Regions from separate parts of the Homo sapiens genome. Here all the other regions are reported to be linked to region 3. Evidence: microRNA targets listed by miRTarBase, many of them from high-throughput screens and not tested one by one. Region 3 holds a microRNA gene; each other region holds the end of a gene's coding sequence.
What was found. The annotated mature microRNA hsa-miR-6715b-3p reads CUCAAACCGGCUGUGCCUGUGG and lies in region 3 at 1,916-1,937, opposite strand. An mRNA with a match to its seed (bases 2 to 7 or 8) in the 3' UTR can be bound and repressed. Matches are read on the target gene's strand: a 7mer-m8 pairs with bases 2 to 8, a 7mer-A1 pairs with bases 2 to 7 and ends in A, and an 8mer does both.

Region 1: the mRNA of OMA1 is a reported target of hsa-miR-6715b-3p. Seed matches in the 3' UTR shown: 7mer-A1 at 2,685-2,691.
Region 2: the mRNA of GCM1 is a reported target of hsa-miR-6715b-3p. Seed matches in the 3' UTR shown: 7mer-m8 at 469-475 and 7mer-A1 at 1,354-1,360.
Region 4: the mRNA of NDNF is a reported target of hsa-miR-6715b-3p. The part of its 3' UTR that is shown has no 7-base or 8-base seed match.

The regions. Positions count from the first base shown.
Region 1 is chr1:58,478,197-58,481,372 of GRCh38, forward strand. It overlaps OMA1 (OMA1 zinc metallopeptidase), which reads right to left. Exons shown (of 9, transcript NM_145243.5): 9 at 2,523-2,978. The coding sequence ends at 2,769. It also overlaps a transcript of DAB1 not described here. Among named protein-coding and RNA genes, the nearest start is that of OMA1, 67 kb to the right of the region's middle.
Region 2 is chr6:53,125,237-53,128,420 of GRCh38, reverse strand. It overlaps GCM1 (glial cells missing transcription factor 1), which reads left to right. Exons shown (of 6, transcript NM_003643.4): 6 at 1-1,460. The coding sequence ends at 215. Among named protein-coding and RNA genes, the nearest start is that of GCM1, 22 kb to the left of the region's middle.
Region 3 is chr10:112,297,707-112,300,890 of GRCh38, forward strand. It overlaps MIR6715B (microRNA 6715b), which reads right to left and starts at 1,982; the gene lies at 1,906-1,982. It overlaps TECTB (tectorin beta), which reads left to right. Exons shown (of 11, transcript NM_058222.3): 8 at 363-525; 9 at 1,786-1,858. MIR6715A (microRNA 6715a) reads left to right here and starts at 1,906; the gene lies at 1,906-1,984.
Region 4 is chr4:121,033,427-121,036,610 of GRCh38, forward strand. NDNF (neuron derived neurotrophic factor) reads right to left here. Exons shown (of 4, transcript NM_024574.4): 4 at 2,187-3,184. The coding sequence ends at 2,838. Among named protein-coding and RNA genes, the nearest start is that of NDNF-AS1, 36 kb to the right of the region's middle.

The DNA of each region.
Region 1 (3,176 bases), not on the chromosome of region 3:
TTTCCCTGCTCTTACTCACTCTCTCTTGCCTGCCACCACGTGAGACATGCCTCTTACCCTTCCGCCATGATTGTGAGATTCCTGAAGCCTCCCCAGCCATGTAGAACTGTGAGTCAATTAAATCCCTTTTCTTTATAAATTACCTAGTCTCGGGTATGTCTTTATAGCAGTGTGAAAATGGACTAATAGTACAAAGTATGCATTCAGTATATGGTAACAATTTTTATTACATTTGCAGCTCTAGACTTTGTGTTAAATGCTTTAAGTATATCATTTCACTTGGTCATTGGTCAACCTAGGAGGATTTTTTTTGTCCCCATTTTACAATTAAGAAATGAGGGTTAGAGAGTTTGCATGACTTGTCCAGGGTTCCACAACTACAGAAGCAGATTTTACAGAGTATGATTGTTTCTCCTTTTTTTCAATCCTTTGAACAGATAATTATTGTACAGTGTCAATGTTAATTGAATGCCTATAATGTGCAAAGCATTATAAGTATATAGCAGTAAATATACACACTGTCCTTTAGTTTTAGAGGATAGTCTCACCCTATCTGAATTATAGAAAAGATCGGGTTGAGTTTGTGCCTTGGATTTATTAGCATCATGCTCCTAACAACTAAGTTAACCAGCCTATCATCTAAATCCTATAGGCACATGAAAAGTATTGACAGGAACAAAGTAGTTCTGCAACTAAGTGTAGAACATACAGCTTATTTCCATATAAAATTTAAAGTATATATATACATCTTGTATTTCAACTGCTATTTAATTTCTTCTAAAGCATTGAGCTGAACTGTAACATTTCTTTTACATTTAATTCCACTGGTTAAAAAAAATCTTTTTCATATACTATAAAGATATTATCTCTGCTCTTTCTGACATGGTGTCAACTTATATATGTTTCTAGCAAGTATGAACAACACAATTAGAAGTGACAATGGGAATGGAAGAAAAAGTAGGCCGTTGCTACATTATTTTCCTAGGAAATCTGCAGGAAAATCTAATGCTGTGTTTTACTGTTTACCTTTAGGTGACATTCTCCAAGTGTCTTTATATGTTATGGAGTGCCTTTTACAATACTCCAATCACAAGGAGTGTAAAAAATGATTATATGGAGAATAGTTAATATGAACCTCTTCATGACCAATGTTGTCTCGTGTGCAGATCAGGAAATTCCTTACAAGTAATGTATAATAATCCCTGAGAAACATAAACAGCCTCTGAACTTATCTTCTTAACAACTAGATATTTTGTCCAAGAAGATTTAATAATGTCAGGACACATCCCAAATGAGATTTCACAGGCTTTCACAGGCAGGGGGAGAGGTTCTACTCTCCTACACTGCCTCATCTATGCTTTTCATGTCAATTTTGATAGAAGGGTCTGAGAGAAGAACCTATAAAATCAACCTACAGAAAACACAAGTGGTCCCTGATTTCATAATGATGAGATTTTTACTTATATTGAAGCCATATGTGGGGAAGCTAATGAACAACTGAGAATACTTTGTTCCTTGTCTTGATAGCTTAGTCTTAGATATCTGAGAGTTGTAAAAAAATGGACAGATTTGTAGTCAGATAGACTCAGCTTTGTTCTATCTAGGTGAGAGATATTGGATATATTATGTAACTTCTCGAAGCCTATTTGTCATTGTAAAGTGAGAATAATAAAACCTAGTAGGGTTATGGAATAAAGATAAATATAGGGCCCAGTTCATAGTAGATTCACAATACAAAGTAGTCCCTTTCCTCTTTAATTCTCTAAGAAAATATTTATTTAATATAATGTATTTCAAGAAAAATGCCCTTCTTAGAAATATAACCTAAGCATCACTAGACTTCACTAGTTTGGGAATACAAATATTAAATAACTCGTATTTCCACATTTATATAATGCAGCAATTTCTGGGCACCACTGGGGGTATGTCTTGTGCTGCTTCTCTTGTCGTTTTCCTCCAGTCGTCTTGTTGATATCTGCTGCTCAGGAAGGTCAACTTGGGGACAGTGCCTTGCCTCAGCCTCTTTTGAGGGACAGTGCCTTGCCTTTGCCTCTTTTTCTTCTCTGGGAACCCGAGATTCCCAAATGGTAATCTCATGGAGCAACCAAATGACATAAACTTCTGTTAAGATTTCAGTGCACCAGGAACACGCTGTATCTCTGTGGAAATGCCCTCTCCCCCAATTCTGTTTCTTGCTTTGTCATCTGAACCACAAACTGTACTTCTTTTGCCTCCCTATGAAAATGGCTTCTGCCAGTAGCATTTTCTCCAGTCATCCACAGGTGAAGACAAGGAAATTCTCTATCCTGAGGCCCCCTTTTCCACATAATCCCACCCCAATGCAAACTATTTCCTGCAAACAGATACCTTCAGACTGTTTCCCCCTTCATCATAACGACCCAGACTTAGAAATCCAGTTTAGGCTCAGTTGAAACATTCTCTACTATAAAAACTACCGTATGGGCTCATTTCTCATCCACTAGGGGTCTGCCTTCTAAATCAAAAGCAAGTAGAAGACAGAGTAAAATGTGTAATATAAATTTATTCTGTGACATTTTCCTCATTGAAGATATTTTAACATAGATTAAAATACATCAATATTTCATGAAAAATAAATTCTAGAAGAATTTAGATAATATCTGTAATGTACATGATTTGACCCTGAATATCCTTTTTTTTTTCACTTCAAACATCATTTTTTAAAAAGTAACATAAAATGATAAGGACTGCAACATTCTTCATATATCTTGTGTCTCATAAATTTTAATTCAACTGCCCGTTCTTTTCTCAACTATGTATGTTAATGGTATTTGCTCCTGTTTTTGAATAGGAAGAGTATCCATTTTCTGTTTCTTCGTGATATTTAGGTCTTCTTTCTCTGATTCTTCAAGAAAATGCTTCGTGCTGAGTTTGAATAGTAATCGAGGGTCTGGATTAGACAGTGGTGGACAATTACACATCTCTCTAATTTTGAGAGCCTATAAAGAAATAATAAAATAAAAAAATACTATATATATACATCAATGTATTCAGATTGTTTCAGTAATCCCTAATATGCTCCATGTAAAACAAAGAATGTATTGTTATTTTTTTAATAAAAGGTATCTTGATTATAACACATAAAAGAGAACCACTGAAAAATCTACAGTGAACAGTTGTTTTCATGATTTGGTCAA
Region 2 (3,184 bases), not on the chromosome of region 3:
AGAAAGTACATGTGGATTTTAACAGCTACGTCCAGTCTCCTGCATACCATTCACCTCAAGAAGACCCCTTTCTCTTCACCTACGCCTCTCATCCTCATCAGCAATATTCACTGCCAAGCAAGAGCAGCAAATGGGATTTTGAGGAAGAAATGACATACTTGGGTTTGGATCACTGCAACAATGATATGCTTCTGAACCTGTGTCCTTTGAGATGACCCAAATCTTTCACTATGTGCACCCCAGCCCCTCAAAAATGGGGAAGGGCTGAAAGAATTTCCTTAGGAAATAATTTTTAAAACATAACCACAGATAAATGAGAATCATGATAAGCAGTAGACAAGGCTTTTTTCTTTTTCTTTTTTCCTTCTTTTTTTTTTTTTTTTTTTTTTTTTGAGACAGAGTCTTGCTCTTTTGCCCAGGCAGGAATGCAGTGGCGCCATCTCGGCTCACTGCAACCTCTGCCTCCCGGGTTTGAGTGATTCTCCTGCGTCAGCCTCCCGAGTAGCTGGGATTACAGGCACCTGCCACTGCGCCTGGCTAATTTTTCTATTTTTAGTAGAGACAGGGTTTTGCCATGTTGGTCAGGCTGCTCTCAAACTCCTGATCTCAAGTGATCTGCCCACCTCACCATCCCAAAGTGCTGGGATTACAGGCGTGAGCCATTGTGCCCGGCTGACAAGGCTTTTTTCTTCACATGAGTAATTTTTTTGGCTTCTTCTCCTCCACTCTAGTATTTCCACCCTCAGTAAGGAATGGAAACCTGTCCCGTCTGGGGTGTGAAGTGCCCTCTGCTTTTTCCCCCACATTGTTTGGGGTTCCCAGCACCTCAGCCACATTGCATGCTGGGTTTTCATTGTCATTGTTGCAAATGAAATGGAGTAGACATGTGAAATGCTAACCTATCTAGGACCTGATCTATGCCTTCTTGGGAACTGAGAATGAAGAAACAGAAATAGATGGTGGAAGAACTGCCTAAGGTGTGAAAAGCTGAAGATTCTACCACTGAAGTACTGAATATGTTGTCTAGTTGTGAGACTAGTGTGTAAAATATATGTTTTCTAGATGATTTCTGAGACTTGTGATGACAAGGAACCTGACCTAACCCCATTTTTCATAAAGACAAAGAACAGCAATGTTAAATTGCCATATGAAGAGAAACACTAGTGATGTGCGTGGTCTCCTTGCCTCTTGTTTCCTTCCCTCTTCCTCACTGACTTCCCCTTGCACAGGGGCTTCTGTTTTATCCCATTTATTATTTGTGGCACCTATATCAATGTGGGGTTTGTAATAGGTGAGAAATATTTGCTTGGAGAAGCTCTTGTGCAATTAGCCTGGCAATGATTGGCCGGCCATGTTTGAATGCCAGTTTCTCTTCTTTGCTGAAGTACTTTATGATAAAAGTAAGCCTAGACATAAAATCTGGAGAGAACCATGCAATAAACAAGTATTTTTGAAATAAATTATTCCTTCTCCTTTATTAGAATAGTAACAGATGCACATGATACAAAATTCAAAAGTGAAAAAAAAGAAGTCTCCTAGTTCTAGTCTCCCCTCTGCAACACTGACTAGTTTCTTGTCTATTATTCCAGATATTAGAAATGTTCTCTGCATATATATAATTATATGTAATGTGTATGAAATACATTACATAAAATACACACATATCTTTTATATATAAAATATATTTATATATATATATAAGAGAGAGATGACATAAGTGGTATCATATCAGATTCATTTCTAACATAGTTTTTGTCGTTTTAGGAGCCAATTTGAGCATTAAGTTCTTATAAGCATATAGGATCACAGCTGCTTCATTTTTAATGATGCATTATGCATTACATGACTATTATAATTAAATAGTCCCTATTGATAAACATTTAGATTTGTTCAAATCTTCTAAATTCATTTGTCTAAGTGACAAGACTATATATAAAACTTATATATTGGCCAGGCATGGTGGCTCACACGTGTAACCCCAGCACTTTTGGAGGCAAAGGCGGGTGGATCACTTGAGCCCAGGAGTTCAAGACCAGCCTGGGCAACATAGCGGGACCCCGTCTCTACCAAAAATTAAAAATTAGCTGGATGTCATCATGCATACCTGTAGTCTCAGCTACTTGGACCTGTAGTCTCAGCTACTTTGGAGGCAGGAGGATCACTTGAGTCAGGGAGGTCGATGCTTATCAAATCAGTGAGCCATGATTGTGCCACTGCATTCCAGCCTGGATGACAGAGTCTCAATCAATCAATCAATAAAAACCTTATATATTCAGTTTAGCAGAATTGTAAAGTGAATACTTGTGTAAACACTATCTGGACCAAGAAATAGGATCTACTGGCACTGCAGAAGTTCCCCTTACTGTGGATTTCAATCCCATCCACAACCCTCTCCCTGTATCCCAAAGGTGATCACTAGACTGGCTCTTTACATTTTTACTACCTTTGTATGTATCCCTAAACTATAGTTTCGTGTGGTCTTTTTGGGGAGCCTAACAAATAGAATCATATGGTATACTTTAAAGAATTAATTGAAGTGTAATGTACATATAGAAGAATCCACAGCTCATAGCATAGAGCTCAATTGTCATAAGAACACACCAGTCTAGCTATCATCTAGTTAGTGTACATTTTTTTATGATCTTGCCTTTTCTGCTCAACATTGTATCCATAAGAGGGTAGCTGTAATTTGTTATTTTCATTGCTGTAATACATTTCTTTATTCTCACTCTAAATGAAATGAAAGAGCTAAATAAACAGTAACTGTCTGAAGGAAACTTTAGCTCCTGTTGGTCCAAAGCTTTCTGGGTATTGCAAACATTTTACCTCCACCAGACTAGGCATCCTGTTATTCCAAACCTTTTCTCACTTTCAAAAACTATAATCTTAGCCAGGCATGATGGCTCATGCCTCTAATTCCAGCACCTTGGGAGGCCGAGGTGTGAGGATCGCTTGAGCCTAGGAGTTTGAGACCAGCCTGGGTAACATAGCAAGACTCTAAAAAATATTTTAAAAATTAGCTGGGTGTGGTGGTGTGCACCTGTAGTCCCAGCTACTCGGGAGGCTGAAGCAAGAGGATTGCTATAGCCCAAGAGGTTGAGGCTGCAGTGAGCCATGATTGTGCCACTGCACTCCAGTCTGCGTGACAGAGCCAGATCCTGTCTCAAAAAAATAAAAATAAATA
Region 3 (3,184 bases):
TGCCATTGTCCTTACTTTGTATGTCCCTCAAGGGCTGGACATATTCCAGTCCTCGGAGGGCCTTATCTCCTAGGGATTTTCTTTCTTTGGGACACAGGTGTAACTTACTAAAAGTGTGACTCTTATAAGTCACTCCCCTCCCATCGTACCTTGTCTATAGAATGAGGACAGTAATACCCATCTCCTAGCTCATCAACTTGACCTCACAGTTGTGAAGATCAAGTGAGGTGCTGCTAATCAAAATGCCTGGGAAGGTTAGAGGTCATATAACCACCTCGGGAGCCTTGTGTGTAAATCGCTCAGCAGCTCTTGCTGGAGTTCAAGGAGATGACAGTTCACTCTTCTTTCCCCATCTGCCTCAGCTGCCCCACGGATGAAACCGTCCTCGTGCATGAGAATGGGAGAGATCACAGGGCAACCTTCCAATTCAATGCTTTCCGGTTCCAGAACATCCCCAAACTCTCCAAGGTGTGGTTACACTGTGAGACGTTCATCTGCGACAGTGAGAAACTCTCCTGCCCAGTGGTGAGCTGCCTCTCTCCAGAAGGACAATGTTACCTAAAGGGTGCCAGTATTGGAGGAGCTGGAGTTTGAGTGGGGAGATCATAACCAGGCCAGGGCAGCTGTGTGCTGAGGACATCTGGAGGAAATGGCACTGAGTATAAGGGCAGATGCTCGTGAGGGCAGATGCTCAGGGCCCTATCTGCCCTGCCTCCAACAACCCACATGGTCTGGCATGTGTCGCCTAACCTGCTGGGACCTGCTTTCTCATCCTTAAGCAAAGTGTGTTAAGTAATGATGGCCCTTCCCTCATCAGAGGGCAGTGTAGGTAAATGAAAGTGATAACAGACTTGGAAATACTTGGAAGAAGTGAAAAGGGCAAGGGAAATTCAAGGTCTAGGTGGCAGGGACAGGCCGTGGAAATAACTCAAAAGGTGGGTGTTTTTAGTCTTGACTGAACAGCCCGAGGGTTCACCTCTGTGACTTCAGAGAGATGCTGCAGAAATTCCCGACACTGGATCATGGCTGATTTGACCACGTGAGAGGAAGGCCTGGGCAGGCTGTGCTTTAACAAGCCAGCAGTCATGCCGGTGCTCACTCAAGCCTGAGAACCACCACTTAGACACTTAGACATGCCAAATCTCAAACTGTTCTCCTTTCTGGTCTCTTTCAACTGGAGACCTCGGTGTTTCCAAAGAGGCTGCTATCCACATAGCCTATAGTAACCAACAAAAATAAGGTCATAATCTCTATTGCTGTTGTTTCATTTGGCCAGAAAATGGTTCTTTATGAGCACAAACAGCAAAAGGGAAAGAAACCAGAGAGTGCAGAGCCAGGGAGAGGAGGGGAGAGACACTGTACAGTTGATCAAAGGATAAGTATCAATGCCATATTTTTAAAAAGAAAGAAAAGAAAATGAACCAGAATACAATTGCAAGTGTCCACTTCTCTAATTATTGTGGTGAGAGTGGTAAGTAGAAGCCTTATCAAAGGAAATGGGATCAATCCCTTCCACACTCAATGACCTCTTCCAGAAGGATTCCCTCTGGCTTGAAGAGTTAACAAAGTAAAGCTTTCTCTTTGTATTCAAGTTGGAGAAGGGATGAACAGTGTGTCTTCTGGGTTATTTTTTAAAAAGGTAACTCATCTCTGTTGACTGGGGAATTGTGACTCCACCCCATTTGTGACCTTTTTAAAATATCTTTTCTTTCTCTTTTCTCCCCTTTGCTCACGCATCATCCCACCTTCCCCGCTTCTCTCCTGTCTGCCTCTCTGGGTCTTCAGACCTGCGATAAACGGAAGCGCCTCCTGCGAGACCAGACCGGGGGAGTCCTGGTCGTGGAGCTCTCCCTGCGGAGTAAGCGTCTCTGTTTTCCTCTGTTTTCCAAACGGTTGAGTTCACGCTGGGCTGCGTCCACAGGCACAGCCGGTTTGAGCATTTTTACTGAATTGCCAAACCAGTCGTGCCTGTGGGCACAACCTTCACCTGCTCCTGGAGTCTTCCAGCCAGGGGTGGGGAACAGCTCAAGCCAAACGAAGGAGTTGAGGTTTGTTATCTACTCTGAAAGTTCTAACTGCACCCTAAATTCAAATACCCCCAAAGAATCAGGAAGTGCTGAGCTTCCAAACAGAGCATGCAGTGAACAATAATAATAGAAAATGAGATGTCATGGGGCCGGGCTCGGTGGCTCACGCCTGTAATCCCAGCACTTTGGGAGGCCGAGGTGGGCAGATCACTTGAGGTCAGGAGTTTGAGACCAGCCTGACCAACATGGTGAAACCCCACCTCTACTAAAAATACAAAATTACCTGGGCTTGGTGGGGCACGCCTGTAATCCCAACTACTCGGGAGGCTAAGGCAGGAGAATCACTTGAATCTGGGAGGCAGAGGTTGCAGTGAGCTGAGATCGCGCCATTGTACTCCAGCCTGGGCAACAAGAGCGAAACTCCGTCTCAAAAAAAAAAAAAAGAAAGAAAGAAAAAGAAGAAAGAAAGAGAGACAGACAGACAGACAGAAAGAAATAAAGAAAGAAAGAAAGAAAGAAAGAAAGAAAGAAAGAAAGAAAGAAAGAAAAGAAAGAAAGAAAGAAAGAAAGAAAGAAAGAAAGAAAGAGAAAGAAAAAAGAAAAGAAAAGAAAGAAGGAAGGAAGGAAGGAAGGAAAAATGAGATGTCATGAGAATGTCATGTGCAAGTCAAAAAACCTTTACTGAGTATCCAGCACTGCCTGGCCTGGCAGGGCACTAGGATTTCAGAAATAAATGTGACCCAAGCAGGCCCTGTCCTCAAGGGATTTACTGTCTAGCAAGGAGAGAGATGTTAGACACTAAGGGAAAGAGAAATTACTGTTAAGGAGGGTGACAGTGGGCTGGTGCCATGGTTGCACAGTTGATCATCACTAATGTGAAAATCCAAAATCCGAATGCTCCCAAATCTGAAACTTTTTGAGCACCCACATGATGCTCAAAGGTCATGCTCACAGGAAATGCTCATTGTAGCATTTTAGATTTCAGATTCCAGGTTTTCCAGTTAGGGATGCTCAACTAGTATAATGCAAAGATTCCAAAATCCAAAAAAAAATCTGAAATCTGAAACACTTCTGGTCCCAAGCATTTTGGATAAGGGATATTCATCCTGAATGGAGCAAAGGGATTCAACCTAGTACAGGGCTTGCAGAAGAGCTCT
Region 4 (3,184 bases), not on the chromosome of region 3:
ATGCAAACCTAGATTAGAAATACTTTGTCTCTAAAAATAACAAAATGACCATAACATTTTTTTTCTTACAAGTTTGAAGTGGTCAATTATGGGTAACACATACATTCCTAAGGAAATCTGAAATGGTCTTGAAGAATAAGTTTCTTTGAAATGGTAAGTAACACAAAAAGTGTACTTCTTTTTTTGGAAAATGATTCACAAATAACCCCTTTAAACCAACAATTGGTGATTTATATTCTGGTCAGGATTTTGGAGTCTGGGCAATGCCATTACTTAGCTGTTTTGACTATGAGAACTTTTACAAATTTATTCTGACTTCTATGATCTTTAATCTCTTTTCTACACCTGAAAAATAATAAAGATTGTAAACTAGATGTCCTCAAAGATTCTTCCCTCCCCAGTGATACATGACTATACTTGGGACTCTCTAAATGCCCTGCTGTCAACAGAGCTATCCTGAAGCTTACTGAACACAAGGTGGTGCTTTCATATGAGCTTCTTTCTAGTTCTTTTGTTAATTAAGAACAAGTTTTTGTTTTTTGTCCCCAGTTTAGCCAAATGCTCCTGAAATAGAAATGCATTAGTAAATAAGAGCTTCATTTTTAATAGGTTTTCCCCTTTCTTTAGGAGTGATAGAAGTTTCATAATGTGTATTTCGTTTTCCTAATAATTTCAAAAAGGCAAATTTCACTAGGGCCATGAAAGTATTCTTGGATTTATCCAGACTATGTAGAAACCACCATCACAGCTGGCTAAAAAGCAAAAGCTTGGTTAAATTGACTTGGCGTGGTTCCCAGGGTTTCCCAGGCATTAAGCAATATCTGAAAGTTAAAAGTCTGTCACCTTCAGAAGCTGCAATAACTCTTTGATTCACTGTAGTCCAATTTAACACATTGTTATGTAATAATATATATATGTGAGTAATATGAGAAAGCTGATTTTTCTTCAACGGCAGCACATTCATAACTTAGGATATAACATCTCTGGGATGTTGTCAATTTTAAAGTCTCTCCTTCCTAGTTGGTTGGTTACATAACCATGGGAGTACTGTTCTTTATCTGTTAAAAAATTCTTTCAGGTGTCATTACTGTTGTGTATAGATGTGGTCACTTTTGTTTAGATATCTTAACACTGAGGAGTTGGATGAGAACGTTTTTAAGGAACTATTTTCCCCTAAGGCAAGCAGAGCATATTTTATAAGGACCACCACTTACACTACCTTAGTCATAGCCATCTATACTCCACAGGAATGTTGCTGTTGAATGCCCACCATATGAAAGGCAGTGTCAGCATGCAGCGGGCAGTGTAGAGGTAAAGTGATTACACCTGTCCACACTTGTAGTCACAGCACTTTAGAATCATAGAATTCTACCAAAGACAACCTCTTATAATAGAAAGTATCTAACAATGTCAACTCATCTAAATCTATCACCACCAAATGTTAACAGATGGGAAAGGGAGATGATGGGAGGTAACAGATTTTCTTAAAGTCATATTGCTTTAGGTGATTGTAAATTCCACACTTTTCTGATTCCTGGACCAATATTCTCGTAACACCTCATGATTTATGTATAGAACCTGTGGAGAATGAAGCTACCTAAAAGTGCCCTTTGTGCACAGTCTCTGATAAAATATGTTATGATTTGCCTAAATTGTCTCTTACACTTGAAATTACTTTTAAAAAATCCATGAAAAATCAAAGTTAAAAGTAGCAGACCATTAATGTTATAAAACAACAGCTTTCCTAGTTTTCTTCTTACTAATAAAAGTCCTGATTGGTGTTTGTTAAGTTGCATCAGCTAGAGATTAAAATAATTATTAACTATTTTGCTAAGATTCAAACAGATGGAAAATGCTTGAAATATCTCAATTTTGTACTTAAAATAAATGCTTATAAAGTGATATATTTTAGGTTATTAAGGACAATTTGTTGAATACTTGTCGAGTTAGTGTTTGGCTTGTCCTATTCTTTTAAAACAAGTCTATTGTAGCTCTCTTAACTCTCCTAACAGCTGGCTCCCATTCAACGTCAAAAGTACAAATTTTAATAACTATTTCTAATGCCATAGTAACTTTAGAGAGATGGGGCATCCCTTTTTAATTATTAAAAAAGGGTCTGTTTTGGTGCCAAACTACAGAAGGTGCAGTTTTGAGGACAGATTAGAAATTGAATACACCAAGGTAGCTGCTTGGGAAAATGAACAGTATATAATCTAATCTCTTTAATTTTATGTACATGAATATAATGTATGTCAACTTTGTACATGAGATACATATAGTATTTAAACATTTTACTCAACAAACAAGAATTTACAATAGCAATATAACTGACTAGAGGGCTATCAACTTAATAATACTTAGATTAGATCTGTACTTTAATAGGAAAAGAATTTAATAGTTTACAATCATAGAAACACTGACATTTAAAACAAGAATTTATAAAATAATTTATATATATCCTAGCATCTACAGAGAGGAATGATTTGCATTTGTGGGTGTGTGCAATGAATGGCATATTTTAAATTTTTAGGTAATAAAATAATTTAGAAGCAGTTCATGCAGTGGTCAAAGCAAGGAATGGCAAGTTCCTTCAAGAAGCCCTCTATCTTTGACACCAACCGGCATCAGACACACACTAGGTACCATGGGGCACGCTAGAACAAGTCTCCTTCAAGAGTTACTTATATAAACATCAATATACACACGTTGATATCCTTCCTTCCATAGTACAAGTACAGGTCACAACTTCTCTCAACTGTGGGAGTAGTCAGTTTATACTTAAAGTGATTTAATGTCCCTCCTGGAGTTCTACATAATATATCTCTATAAGAAGGTAACTAACAGAACTTTCTAGTTTTCACAACCTTACTCTGATACTTTACAGAGTGCCCCCCATGTCCTATGACATAAACATCCAGCAGGTAAGATTTGCCAGGCTGAAGACCTTTAATTGTTTCTGTGGTCACTGCTTTCTGCAGGTTTTGACTGTGGAAATATTTACAGAGGACCTTTTCTGACTTCTTCCTTATATCTGGTCCTAGACATTGGTTTTGCTCTCTTTTCTTCTGGTCTTCATTGTAGTTATCATCCACTTCTTTTTTGTAGATGCAAAACTTGTTCCTTTCCTGAGTGCCTAGCCAAGCCACGGTGGCTGAGGAACAGGTACGGAGCTTGTCAAAGGCTT